4 linked regions of the Homo sapiens genome follow. The protein of the gene in region 3 purifies or fractionates together with the protein of the main gene of each other region. This does not show direct contact. Each region holds a gene or a part of one and is shown on either strand. Other genes may lie near its edges.

Evidence for each region. The genes of interacting proteins can lie anywhere in the genome.
Region 1: the proteins of CHST12 (region 3) and EDA purify together in Homo sapiens (co-immunoprecipitation; one large-scale study listed by IntAct). This does not show direct contact.
Region 2: the proteins of CHST12 (region 3) and PON2 purify together in Homo sapiens (affinity purification with mass spectrometry; 3 studies listed by BioGRID and IntAct, with this or other methods). This does not show direct contact.
Region 4: the proteins of CHST12 (region 3) and RMND1 purify together in Homo sapiens (affinity purification with mass spectrometry; 2 studies listed by BioGRID and IntAct, with this or other methods). This does not show direct contact.

Annotation. Positions count from the first base shown.
Region 1 is NC_000023.11:69,955,113-69,958,612, reverse strand, and holds part of EDA (ectodysplasin-A), read right to left. Parts: intron 1,587-3,500; coding exon 1,481-1,586; intron 1-1,480. UniProt on the Homo sapiens protein: Cytokine which is involved in epithelial-mesenchymal signaling during morphogenesis of ectodermal organs. Functions as a ligand activating the DEATH-domain containing receptors EDAR and EDA2R. May also play a role in cell adhesion.
Region 2 is NC_000007.14:95,407,696-95,411,028, forward strand, and holds part of PON2 (serum paraoxonase/arylesterase 2), read right to left. Parts: intron 2,407-3,333; coding exon 2,206-2,406; intron 1-2,205. UniProt on the Homo sapiens protein: Capable of hydrolyzing lactones and a number of aromatic carboxylic acid esters. Has antioxidant activity. Is not associated with high density lipoprotein.
Region 3 is NC_000007.14:2,427,611-2,431,110, reverse strand, and holds part of CHST12 (carbohydrate sulfotransferase 12), read right to left. Parts: intron 1-3,500. UniProt on the Homo sapiens protein: Catalyzes the transfer of sulfate to position 4 of the N-acetylgalactosamine (GalNAc) residue of chondroitin and desulfated dermatan sulfate.
Region 4 is NC_000006.12:151,445,627-151,449,126, forward strand, and holds part of RMND1 (required for meiotic nuclear division protein 1 homolog), read right to left. Parts: intron 200-3,500; 5' UTR 186-199; coding exon 1-185. UniProt on the Homo sapiens protein: Required for mitochondrial translation, possibly by coordinating the assembly or maintenance of the mitochondrial ribosome.

The DNA.
Region 1 (3,500 bases), on a different chromosome or scaffold from region 3:
GGTCCAGTTCTCCATTCAAAGGCTCAATGCTGCTGCCACCTCCACTGACTAGAAAACCCTATCTTACTGCTCTGGCTCTTTTTTTTTTTTTTTTTGGTATTATTATGGGGTCCTTGTTCTGAGCTCTTTCTCAGATTTCAGCCAGTTATACTTCTTATTGCCCCTACTGACAAAGTCCTGGCTCCATCTCTTTAATAGCTTCCGCCCTCTAAAACTGCTTCCATCAGTGGCCCTTACTCACATCAACAAATGTCAGTTTAAAATTTTCATTTTCATCTGTATAAAGTCATATTGCTTTGTAACCCTCCAGACACATATTATTGGCAGATGTAGCCAGACACATGCTGTCTTTGAATCCAGATGCCTTTGCAGCAGCCCAGAGCTATGTATTCTACAAACCCCTGTGCCCAAAGGGGTAGCATTATGTCAATTGACAGAGTGATGCTGAAATATCAGAGCAATTCAAAGACCCTGCCCAGGAGCTAGCTCAACATTTTGTTATGCCCCACAGAATGCATTGCTAGTTAACTCAAAGCTATTACACCCAGAACAGGGATGGTTTCCATTGATACATCACTGCCTAGCTGAAGGGGCAGTCAACATCATCGACTTACATAACAATCACCAACAATGTTCCAGATAGTAGGCTAGATTCTAGGCTTATACAAAGAGAAATGAAATCTCTGCCCACAAGAAACTTATAAACTAGTTCTAGAAGGTCTAGTTCAGATTTGGGCATGGTAGTGGATACCAACATTGATAAAATTATCATTGGAATTAACACATCATGTAAGTGCTAGCAGGGTACAACACTGTCAATTCCAAGAATAGAACCAAATCCTCCTGTTGACCTTAATAGGTGTGGGACATCTCCGGGAGAGATGAGGCCCTTATAGAGGGTGATTTTGAGAGATACAAATGCTATCATGGCTCTCAGACATACTGAGAAAGGACTGAAGGTATCTGGAGTTGGAGGAGGGAGGATCCTTGTATAGTTAGTTCTATGTTAAAGGACTGATTGGTAGGTTAGGCTGCAGAAATAGTCTATGACCTTGGGTCTGTGGTGGACAGTATATAAGATGATGAAGCACACTTGAAAAGGTAGTGGTTTTTTTTTTTTGTTTTTTTTTTTTTGAGATGGAGTCTCGCACTGTCACCCAGGCTGGAGTGCAGTGGCACAGTCTCAGCTCACTGCAACCTCTACCTCCCAGTTTCAAGCGATTCTCCTGCCTTAGTCTCCCAAGCAGCTGGGACTAGGCCCGGCTAATTTTTTTTGTATTTTTAGTAGAGACAGGGTTTCACCATGTTGGCCAGGCTGGTTTTGAATTCCTCACCTCAAGTGATCTGCCCGCGTGGGCCTCCCAAAGTGCTAGGATTACAGGCGTGAGCCACCATGCCCTACCAAGAAGGTAGTTCTTAAAAGGATACTTTTACTAACAAATAATTCAGAAGTGATAAAGGATCAACTGAGTAGACTTACCATCTGCTCCTTCATTGCTTTTGCTTCTTTTATTGCGGCGAACACGCCTACTTTCTTCTTCAGAGTATGGCTTTTCATCAGGGAAGAAGAAATTCAATAGGGCCATCTGTAAAAATTACAAGTACATTAGTCAAAGGTTGACCCCACTCAGTCATAGCCAACATAAAAAACCAGCTTTCCATAGACAGTCTACCTGTACCTTAAGTTTGATGTGTCTAAAGCCTGAGCCCATCTTCCCCTCCACTGTACAAACCATTTTATTTTTGATACCATTATTATTCCAATCATGTAGGCATGACATTTTGGTTAATTTCTGAATCCCATTTCTTCCACCCTGAATATCTAATAAATAATCCATCAGGTCCCATTTCTTCATATATTTCTGGGATTCAGAGAGCCTAGCCACAAATTTCTAACTTCCCACACATACTGAGGATGCTCACTCAGAATTTGAGTTGAACAGAAAATTGAACAGAAAACCTTGAATTTGGCTGGGAGCAGTGGCTCACGCCTGTAATCCCAGCACTTTGGGAGGCCGAGGTGGGCGGATCACCTGAGGTCAGGAGTTCGAAACCAGCCTGACCAACATGGTGAAACCCCATCTCTACTAAAAATACAAAATTAGCCGGGTGTGGTGGTGGGGGGTGCCTATAATCCCAGCTACTGGGGAGGCTGAGGTAGGAGAATCGCCTGAACCTGGGAGGCAGAGGTTGCAGTGAGCTGAGGTCGCACCACTGCACTCCAGCCTGGGCAACAAGAGCAAAACTCTGTAAAAAAAAAAAAAAAAAAAGAAGAAAGAAAGAGAAAGAGAAAGAGAAAGAGAAAGAAAGAAAGAAAGAAAGAAAGAAAGAAAGAAAGAAAACCTTGAATTTGCTGCTCCCCATTGGACTTCATTATTACACATTCATGATTTTGCCACATTGCTATTTATGATGTAATTTTGGTTTGTTCCCAAAATGCTGTGCATCCAATACTGAGGTACTATTTGTCAATGCTCTTCTGGGAGTTAGTCATGACAAAGTACACAATTATTTTCTCCTCTTCTGAGATTCCTATAGCACTTGTGGTCTATAAGACTAATTTTGGTACCTGGTCCTCTACTGTCTTATAATGGTCTCTGATAATAATACAATATGTTTCATATGTGAATGGGTCTGGCTTCACTAATAATCATAGCTTAAATATATATTTGCTGAATTGAATCATAATCTTTTAGCATGAGTGCTTTACTGTGGTAAAACCATGTGCTTGAGGTAAACAGTAAACACGGTAGTAGGACTGAGTGATTCTAATGCCAACTCTGCCACTTACTAGCTGTATAACCTGGAACAAGTTACTTAAACTTTAGTTTCCTCATCAGTAAGTAGGGATAATAATAGTACTTTGCAGATAAAACAGTTGCAGAGTTAGAACAGTACTTAGCATGTAGCATGCACTTAATAAATGTTTGCTATTACTATTATTATTAAACTTAATCTTCAAAATAGAATGGTTAATTTGGGGCCTAAAATAGAACAAATGAATCTGCATTTTCATTCTATTATCAGTTCAAAAAATAAAAAATTCCAGAGTCCTCATGTCTGCTCCATCTCTGATTAAGTGGAAAAAAAATGGGTTGGACCCAAGAAAGCCCCAATATTCCACACAAATTTTCTTCAAAATTCTGTGATTTACCCAATATCCTTAAGGTGTAGGATTAGCATCTTGAAGGATACATGAATGTATTAAATATAAAATTAATAAATCAATGTGTAGGTAATTTCCATCTTGTCAACAGGACTGCATTTCAAAATAAACTGCCATTTTTGTCAAAAATGGTTGAATATCAATCAACAATTTCACATGGTTCAACTGAGTAGTATTTTTGAGTCACTTGATTGGAATGTAAAAATGCATTTTCTCATACAATCAACATAATAAAGTTTGGCTAGTTCTCCTGATAAGCCCACAGAAAGTTACTTAACTCACAATATAAATAAGCTAAGTACTAATAATAGTATAAAACTAAACTGCTGTTTAC
Region 2 (3,333 bases), about 93 Mb from region 3:
GAAGAAGACACAGCCTCTCTCCTTGAAAGTTTATAGTGTGTTGGAACAAATCTCACTGGTTTGTACACATTAAACACCTAATAAGCATGAGAAATAGTTCAGGTCTAGAAATAGCTAACTTCCGAGGACACAGAAAGGCTCACCAAGGAAGGGGCATCTGCAGTGGCTGTGTAAAGAGAGATGAGATTTGAGATGAGGACGGAGGAGGCACTTCCCAGGCAGAAGCAAGCACAAGAGCAGAATCACAGGAGCAAGAAGAGGAAGGAATGTTTAAAACAATGAGTTCTTTGTCTAAAGCATAGAAAGCATGGAAATAGTAGAAAAGGGAGGTTGGAGGTGGCCTGTTAAACAAAGTCCAACCCTTTACCCTGCCTTGATTTGATAAGCAATTGGATTCCACTGAAATCTTAGAATAATAAAGTGGCAACAAATGGTCAGTTCTGTTCCACAATTCCTGAGCATTTGCTTTGTGCCTGGCACTGTACTGGCATAAGGAGTCAAAGGTGAGGAAGACAGAGTTCCCTCTTTGGGGAGCCCTTCAAGGCTAATAGAGATAGACAGACAAAATTGGCAAGAGTGAAAAAAATCCAAGTAGACAGAAAACAAATTGGAAGAAAGTCTCATATGCTAGTCAGAGAGGATGACAACCTAAATTAGGCAGGTCTCACTCAAAGGGAAAGGAGTTTGGGGGTAGAGGAAGGAGGCACAGGTAGAACCAACAGGACCTGCCTACAGGCTGGATAGGAATGGTGAAAGAGGAGTAAAAGCTGATTCTCCCTTTTCATTATTGTTATTTTTTTGTTAGCTTGGGTGATTGGAAAGTTTGACTCTCATAATGGAAATATAAGAGTGAAAAACAGATTTGGCTGCAGAGGTTGGATCAGGTCAGTTAGAGACAATTTAAATTAAATGATTCTACATTCTTTTTCTATAGTCAACAAGAAAGGAGGAGAAATTGGATTACAAAAATAAGGGCATTTAGTTGTCAAGGAGTGCCAAATTTATTTTATGTTGTATTTGTAGTAGTTTAAATTTTTCAGTGTGCTGAGGCAGTAGATAAGAAAGCTATCAAGAATTTAATATCTTCTCTTATAGGTTGTGGTTGTGCATATAAAAATAATGAGATAATTCTGGAGGACAATTTGGCAATATCTATTAAAGTTAACATTTAAAAGAATCACACTGTTTGAGCAAATAGTTCTATTTCTAGGGGTCTGTTCTACAGAAAAGTAGCTCATAGAACCATTTAGCCAGTGCCCTGGGTGGGATTTGAACCCAGGCCTGTATGAGTCCAAAATCTGCAAGTTTAACCATTATGTTATAATACTCTCTTAGAGCCAGGTGTGGTGGCATATGCCTGTAATCCCAGCACTTCGGGAGGCTGAGGTGGGCGGATCACCTGAGGTTGGAGGTTCAAGACTAGCCTGACCAACATGGAGAAACCTCATCTCTACTAAAAATACAAAATTAGCCAAGCATGGTGGCGCATGCCTATAATCCCAGCTACTTGGGAGGCTGAGGCAGGAGAATCACTTGAACCCAGGAGGCGGAGGTTGAGGTGAGCTGAGATCATGCCATTGCACTCCAGCCTGGGCGACGGAGTGAGACTCCATCTCCAAAAAACAAAACAAAAAAAAAACACTCTCCTAGGGACTTTTTCTTTAAAAAAAATACTTGTTTAAAATTCCATGGTAAATAAGAAGTATAAAATATTTTTTATGTAGAACTCCCCACCCCTATACACATATCCATCAATAGAGAATTGGTTAAATTAGTTTAAGATCATCCTTATAATGGAATAATGTATAGCCAATAAAAATAATACATTTATTTAAAAGGAAATACCTGATACTTCAATATGTATGCATCAGTATGATCACACTTTAAAATTTATATTTATAAAATTAAATTTGACAATGATGTATTCCAAACTTTATATATTATATATAAATACATATATATTACTGTATTATATAGTTTACTTAAATATGGTATTGTATTTGCATATAAATACATGTGACTAAGTATATGTAAATATATATACAAAACATATATAATTATATATATAGTGTATCTATATATTATATGTATAATATACCATAAATGTCAAGAAAACTATTTTCACATTGACAAAGAAAGCAAAGTAAAGAATTTGGCCAGCACCACAACTGAAGAAAAATGAAGATATTCTATAAGGGGCCATACTTATCATCAGGTGAAATATTGATCCCATTTGCTGAATCAAATCCTTCTGCTACCACTTTAACTTCATTTGGACTGTAGTAAACAACATTTGCCCAGTGTAAGTTCAAGTATGTTTCTAAATACTTTAAGAAAGGATCAGAGAAGTAGTGGTCATTTGTGGCATAGAAATGTGCCGGTCCAACAGCTGTGATGTCATTCACACTGAAAAAGAAAAATAGCATGTGAGAGGAAACAAAAGGCCTGTTGGTCTCCATATTAAATATTAAGTACTCATAAGATTTATGCAACATGTGCTTTAAATTTTTGGTAAGAGGAAAAGACGAGCTAAAAATCACGACTATAGTCATATACAATATACTATAATATTGTTGCCAGAGAACAATTTTGTATGGTACCAGGTAATCTGAACACAGGTCATTTAGCAATTATGGCAGGATTACCATAAGAGAAGAAAGAACTTAGTGCCATCAGGGCATGTTTTTTGACAGCAAGAAATGTAGGGTTTAACAATTATACGTAAGGACAGAGCTGTCCACAGTACAGAGCTGGAGAGAGCCTGATTGGCTGGTGAGCTGGTTAGGCAGTCAGTAACATTTACCTAGCTTCCATTTACTCAGTTCCTGGATTTTTCTAATTTCCCTGGCTTAGTTATTAGTCAAACTAAGGTTGACTGTTCAATTTCTACCTGCTTCACAAAGCTGACATGCCGAGAATGAACAGGCACTCAATAAACACTTGCAGAGAGATGGATGATAAAATTGCCATAGTACAATGCTTCAGGTGAGAGATTTATATGCTAAAAACAATTTCATTTTAAGACCAGTTAGGTGAGGGTGTTATTAAATTTAAATTCCAATTACTCTATGCAAAAATTTCTGAAAGAGCTGCTTTATTCTTTGCTAAATGAAAAATATAGAGCTACAGGGAAGGTAGGTCTCATTTTTCTGAAAGAGCACCATAATGCTTGGATGGTATTTATGCTCCTATTTTTTTTTATCAAGTGCATTTTTGGAAGGAATGATTGGAAGTTACATGCTTATGCCCTAGATAGGCATAGATAGGCCCTAGATAGGCAATATTTTTAATTTCATTAGAAATGAAATTTCATTAGAAATTAAAAATATTCAT
Region 3 (3,500 bases):
CAATTATGGCTGGAGACTTCAACACTTCACTCTTGATAACTGACAAAACTATGAGGCAGAAAATCAGCAAGGATACAGAAGAACTCAACACCAGCAACCAACAGGACATAACCGACATATGCAGAACACTCACCTAACAAGAGAACACAGTTTTTTCTAAGTGTCCACAAAACATTCACCATGGTAGACCAAACCTCAGCTAATTTAAAAGAATTGAAATCTTGACAGGGCACGGTGGCTCACATCTGTAATCCCATCACTTCAGGTGGCCAAGGCGGGTGGATCATTTGAGATCAGGAGTTGGAGACCAGCCTGGCCAACATGGTGAAACCCTGTCTCTACTGAAATTACAAAATTTAGGCTGGGTGTGGTGGCTCATGCCTGTAATCCCAGCACTTTGGGAGGCCGAGGCAGGTGGATCACTTGAGATCAGGAGTTGGAGACCCGCCTGGCCAACATGGTGAAACTGTCTCTACTGAAAATACAAAATTTAGGCTGGGCATGGTGGCTTATGCCTGTAATCCCAGCACTTTGGGAGGCCAAGGCAGGTGGATCACCTGAGGTCAGGAGTTCAAGACCCGCCTGGCCAACATGGTGAAACCCCGTCTCTACTAAAAAAATGCAAAAATTAGCTGGGCATGGTGGCAGGCGCCTGTAATCCCAGCTACTCAGGAGACTGAGGCAGGAGAATCGCTTGAACCCAGGAGGCAGAGGTTGCAAGGAGCCAAGATTGTGCCACTGCACTCCAACCTGGGTGACTGAGCAAGACTCCATCTCAAAAAAATAAATAAAAATGAATAAATAAATAAAAATAAAAGAATTGAAATATTTTATATAAAGGAATAAAACTAGAAATCAATAACAGAAAAGACAACAGGAAAATCCACAAACACAAATTCCTGGAAAATAAATGACACATTTCTAAATAATAGCAAAGGAAAAAGTTAAAGTACACAGAATAGAATGAGAATGAAAATACAACATATGTTACAGTCACTGTGGTGCCAAGAGCATTAGAAAGCAGAAAAGGCCGGGCACGGTGGCTCTCTCCTATAATCCTAGCACTTTGGGAAGCCGAGGCGAGAGGGTCTCTTGAGCCCTAGAGTCCAAGACCAGCCTAGACAACATGGCAAAACCCCATCCCTATAAAAAATGCAAAAATCTGCCGTGCATGGTGGCATGCACCTGTAGTCCTAGCTACTCTGGAGGCTGAGGCAGGAGGATCGCTTGAGCCCAGGAGGTCAAGGCTGCAGTAAGCCGAGATCGTGCCACTGCCCTCCAGCCTTGGTCTTAGCAAGACCAAGACCCTGTCTCAAAAGAAAAACAAAAACAAAAAACCAACCAAACAAATGAAAAAAACCTACAAATTATCTTTATCAGGAACAAGACAAGGAATGAAATTATAGATCCTGCAGCCATTGAAAGGATAAGGAACTATTACAAACAATTTTACGCCCACAAATTTAGCAACCTAGATGAAACAGACCAATTCCTTGACAACCACAAACTACCAAAATGAATAATCCTATACTAATTAAAGAAACTAAATTTGTAACGTAAAAGCTCCTTAAAAAGAAATCTCTGGGCCCAGATGGTTTCACTGAAGAATTCTATCAAACATTCAAAGAATAACAACATCAATTTTATACAATCTCTTACAGAAAGGAGAAGAGAGGACATGTCCAACTCATCATCCTAATACCCAAACCAGTGAAAATAAGTACAAAAAAAAAGAGGCCGGGCGTCGTGGCTCACGCTTGTAATCCTAGCACTTTGGTAGGCTGAGGCAGGAGGAACACCTGAGGTCAAGGAGTTCAAGACCAGCCTGGCCAACATGGCGAAACCCTGTCTTGTAGGGAGACCCCCTGAAACTATTGCTATGGAATAAAAGATGAAATGCTCCTGATTACTGTAAATACAAAGTTGCATTCAGGATTGTGTAAAGACAATGCCAGGTTGGACTGTCAGAATGAGCCAACAGCACGTGATATGCTTCCCCCTGCAGAGAGCCTATGAACGGACATGCAGTCAGGGAGCTTTCACATCACCAAGATTCCTATCCCAGAAAAGCAGATGTTCATAGCTCTGGGAATGGAATGCGACCCTTGTGGAGAGCCTACAAACGGACGCATGGGGGGCGCCTGTCCATATGGATAAGATAGTGCTATAAACGCCCTCATCTTGCCACGGCTCTTCTAGGCCTCTTTAGGGTTAAGGCATACTCCCTTCTGAGAATTTCTGGTCTAACTGGCTGTCTAGCTTCACGTCCTGTTTCTATGGATTGTTTGTAACCAGCTTTTGCTGCAACTATTACTGCTGATTAATATCTTGCTAATCATAGGTTATGGAAAGCCTGTGTTTCTGTTTTAAGGCTGTTAGAAATTACTGATGCACATGCTATATTGTAAATTCTTATCTCTGTATACTGTACTTCTGCATACAGATGTTATGTTAAAGAATTACTTCATCCCCATGTGACCATCTCACCTCATAATCAAATGACCCTAAATCCCTCACTAACCTACCCCCGCCCTCACTAAACTTAATAATAAATGCTGGTATATCCAGTGCATTGGCGGCATCGCAGGACCAGAAGGCGGTCACCCCCCGGACCCAGCTTTCACTGTCTTGTGTGTGTCTATTATTTCTCGACCTGCTGATCCGCCTGGGAACAAATAAAAGAGCCCCGTTGCATTGTGGGCTTCTGGCCAGATCCCACAATACCGTCTCTACTAAAAAATACAAAAAATTAGCTGGGCATGGTGGTGGACGCCTGTAATCCCAGATACTCAGGAGGCTGAGGCAGGAAAATCACTTGAACCCGAGAGGCAGAGCTTGCAGTGAGCCGAGATTGTGCCACTGCACTCCAGCCTGGGTGATAGAGCAAGACTCTGTCTCAAAAAAAAAAAAAAAGAGAGAGAGAAAGCTACAGGCCAATATCACTTATGAACTTGGATGCAAAAATGCTCAAAATATTAATAAACCAAATCCAGCAGTGTATAGAAAGAATCACAGCATAGTGACTCACGCCTGTAACCCCAGCACTTTGGGAGGCCGAGGTGGGTGGATCACGAGGTCAGGAGATCCAAACACGGTGAAACCCCGTCTCTACTAAAAATACAAAAAATTAGCTGGCCATGGTGACGGGTGCCTGTAGTCCCAGCTACTCGGGAGGCTGAGGCAGGAGAATCGCTTGAATCTGGGAGGTGGCGGTTGCAGTGAGCCGAGATCGCACCACTGCACTCCAGCCTGGGTGACAGAGCAAGACTCCATCTCAAAAAACAAACAAACAAAAAGGAGTCACGGCATGACCAAGTAGGGTATGCAAGAACGGCTCAATGTTCAAAAATCAACCATGTAATCTATCATATTAACAAGCTAAAAAATCAACTCCTACAGGAAGGAACAACAAAACCCATATCCATTCATTATAAACACTCTCAGCAAACTTAGCAAAGAGGATATCCTCAACTTATAGGGCATCTACAAACACCCTACAG
Region 4 (3,500 bases), on a different chromosome or scaffold from region 3:
AAACCACTAGCTGTTTTATCAGGAAGGAACAAATCCAAGCTTTGACGTATTGTCAGTGTGCTGCATGTTGTATTTTCAAATTCCTTAAGTGGTTTTAACATTAGATGACCGATTCTTCGGCACTGATGTGCTTTTGATAATATATGATGAGATCTGGCCACGGCTCTGAGGAGTGTGGCTGGCATTACCACATCCCAAGCTAAAAGAAAAGGAATTCAAAGTTCAAGTTTTTAAATTAATGTTTAAAACATATATAATATTTCCCTAGGTAGCAGGCATATTTCTGTTAGAAAAATTTGTAAAACAGATACATTCTAAGTTAATTCTAGTAAAAGAACAAGGTTAAAAATATAAGTACAGTGTTTCTGCCACTTTGCCTTTAGCAACATTTGGCCTTCTTCCTGGAAGATTACAAGATTATAAAGCTACTGACATAACAAGAACCTTAAAAAAAATAGTGATGGGACCACTTCATTTACTTCATTAGCATATCAAGTATATAAAAATCTGTGCTGGCCAGGCACTGTAGCTCACACTTGTAATCCCAGCACACTGGGAGGCTGAGGCAGGTGGATCGCTTGAGTCCAAGAGTTCCAGACCAGCTGAGGCAACATGGTGAAACCTCATCTCTACAAAAATGACAAAAATTTAAAAATTAGCTGGGTGTGATGGCAGCTCATGCCTGTAGTCCCAGCTACTCACAGGCTGAGGTGGGAGGATCACTTGAGCCCAGAAGACTGAGGCTGCAGTGAGTCATGATTGTACCACTGCATTCCAGCCCTTTTTCTGTCTCAGGAAAAAAAAAAAAAAAATCAGGAAAGGTTCCCAGAAAGATCTAAGCTGATTCTAGAAGGCGAAGGTGCTTTTCAGCTTGGGGCTGGGCATGGGAGTGCGAGGCATGTCAGATACACACATGAACATTCCAGACAAGGTAAACAGAATTTCCCCCTTATTTACAGTATGAAATGTGTTATTTTAAAGTTAGCCTATAGTAGGCCACACATGGTGGCTCACGCCTGTAATCCCAGCACTCTGGGAGGCTAAAGGCTGGGGGGATCACTTGAGGCCAGGAGTTCAAAACCAGCCTGGCCAACATGGCAAAACCCCATCTCTACTAAAAATACAAAAAAAAATTAGCCAAGCATAGTGGCTTTAATCCCAGCTACTCAGGTGGCTGAGATATAGAATCGTTCAAACCAGGGAGGGAGAGGTTGCAGTGAGCCAGGATTGCCCCACTGCACTCCAGCCTGGGCGACAGAATGAGACTCTGTCTCAAAAAAAAAAAAAAGTTAGACCGTAGTAATCAATAATTCTTTTTTTAAAAATAATATGTTAGGTGCTAGAGATAGATGAATCAATGATCTCAGAATTCAAAGTCTAGCAGAGGAAAATGAACGAGATGCACAAATTGCTCTAGTCCAGAGAAAGGAGCATGTGAAGAGTGTGGCATTGTCACAGAGGTGACATTTGAACTGAGTCTTGAAAGGGCAGAAGGATCAGCAAGTTAAACACCCCAGGCATGGAGTCCTATTCATCTCCCCATCTCGGGGAGGTAGGAGTGAGCTGCAGGAGGTAAGGACCAAAAGAGCCGATGGCCAGATCACCAAAGGATATATAAAGTCATCCTAAAAAGTTTCTACAGGTGGGGAGAAAGCTGAGCTTTTAACTCAGAGTCACACGGTCAAATGCATGTTCATGAAACAAATTTTTGGTGATGATATGTAGGAGGAAACAAGACAGACTCTGACATCACTCTGAGCGCTTTCTACATGCTAAGTGCTCGGCTTCACCTCATAATGATCCCATTTCACTGATTAGGAAACTGAGGTTTAAAGAGGCTAAGTGCTCACCGTTAAGAAGCTGCAGAGATGTAACTAAAATAAAACCCAGGCTTTCCCAATTCCAAAGTCAACACTCTTACCCACTACCTTGTATTTACTACCTCTCTTCAGGATAAGGACAAAGATGATTCACAGTGATATTTAGGAGGTAGAACCTGCTGCTTCCAAAATCCCTTCAAAAGCTCGCATTCTGTGCTTCATTCTAGTCCAATTGGCTACTGTAGTTCACCTTTAATTAGTACTATGCCATGCCAGTTGAACCACTTAATTTTGAAGAAACTATAAAATATTTTAGAAGTTTGTCTACAGTCCTGGATTCTTTTTATTCTCTTTGAGTAAATTCTTTTTTTTTTTTTTTTTTTTGAGATGGGAGTCTCGCTCTGTCACTCAGGCTGGAGTGCAGTGGTGCCACCTCAGCTCACTGCAACCTCCGCCTCCCCGGTTCAAGCGATTCTCCTGCCTCAGCCTCCCGAGTAGCTGGGATTACAGGTGTCTGCCACCATGCCTAGTTAATTTTTTTGTATTTTTAGTAGAGACGGGGTTTCATTATGTTGGCCAGGCTGGTCTTGAAATCCTGACCTCAGGTGATCCACCTGCCTTGGCCTCCTAAAGTGTTGGGATTACAGGCGTGAGCCACCGGACCCAGCCCATTTTTATCACTGCACCTTCTAGAAAGCCTAAGATTACATTTGTGCCTTACACTGTTTTTCTATCAGACAGGGCCCTATTGTCATTATCAATACATCGGACCTCCTCATCTCAGTTTCATCCATTTTACTCTCTAAGCACCACCTCCTATCTTTGCATCTCACTCCTTCTATTACCCAATTCCAATAATTCTTCAACCCCAACAGGACCCACAAGTCAATGATCCAACCACCTTTTCACTGTCTCTCACTCCCCATGACTTCACTTCCTCCATATCCAGTTTACACTCCATGGTCTACCATTCTAACCTCTCCCTTATACCCCTAGAATCCCTTGCATCCCTTTCTTCCCAGTCTTTCCCATTCATGAGCAGTAATAAGTATCTTTATAACTGCTAAGCCAAAAACGTGGGGTCCAGCTTGACTCTTTATTCTCCATATCCAACTTCTCAGTAAATCCCAAGGGCCTTCTAGGGACCACTGCTCATCATCAGTAATAATACTACCTGATCCAAACTGCTATCCTTCCCATGGATTATTATAATAGCTTCTTAACCAGTTTTCCTGATTCTGTTTTGGGCCCCCTACAGTTTCTTCTCAACACAGCAACCAAAGTGATCCTTTGAAGTTGAATCTCAACGCGAAATCTAGCTGTGGCTTCACGGTTCACTTAATAAAAGCCAAAGCCCTCCAACCAGGCATGGCGGCTCACGCCTGTAATCTCAGCACTTTGGGAGGGATCACTTGGGGTCAGGAGTTCCAGACCAGCCTGGCCAACACGGCGAAACCCCGTGTCTACTAAAAATACAAAAATCAGCCGGGCATGGTGGCATGGGCCTATAATCCCAGTTACTTGGGAGGCTGAGGCACGAGAATGGCTTGAATCTGGGAGGCGGAGATTGCGCCACTGCACTCCAGAATGAGCAACAAAGCGAGACTCTGTCTCAAAAAAAAAAAAAAAAAAAAAAAAAAAGCCTGGCGCGGTGGCTCACGCCTGTAACCCCAGCATTTT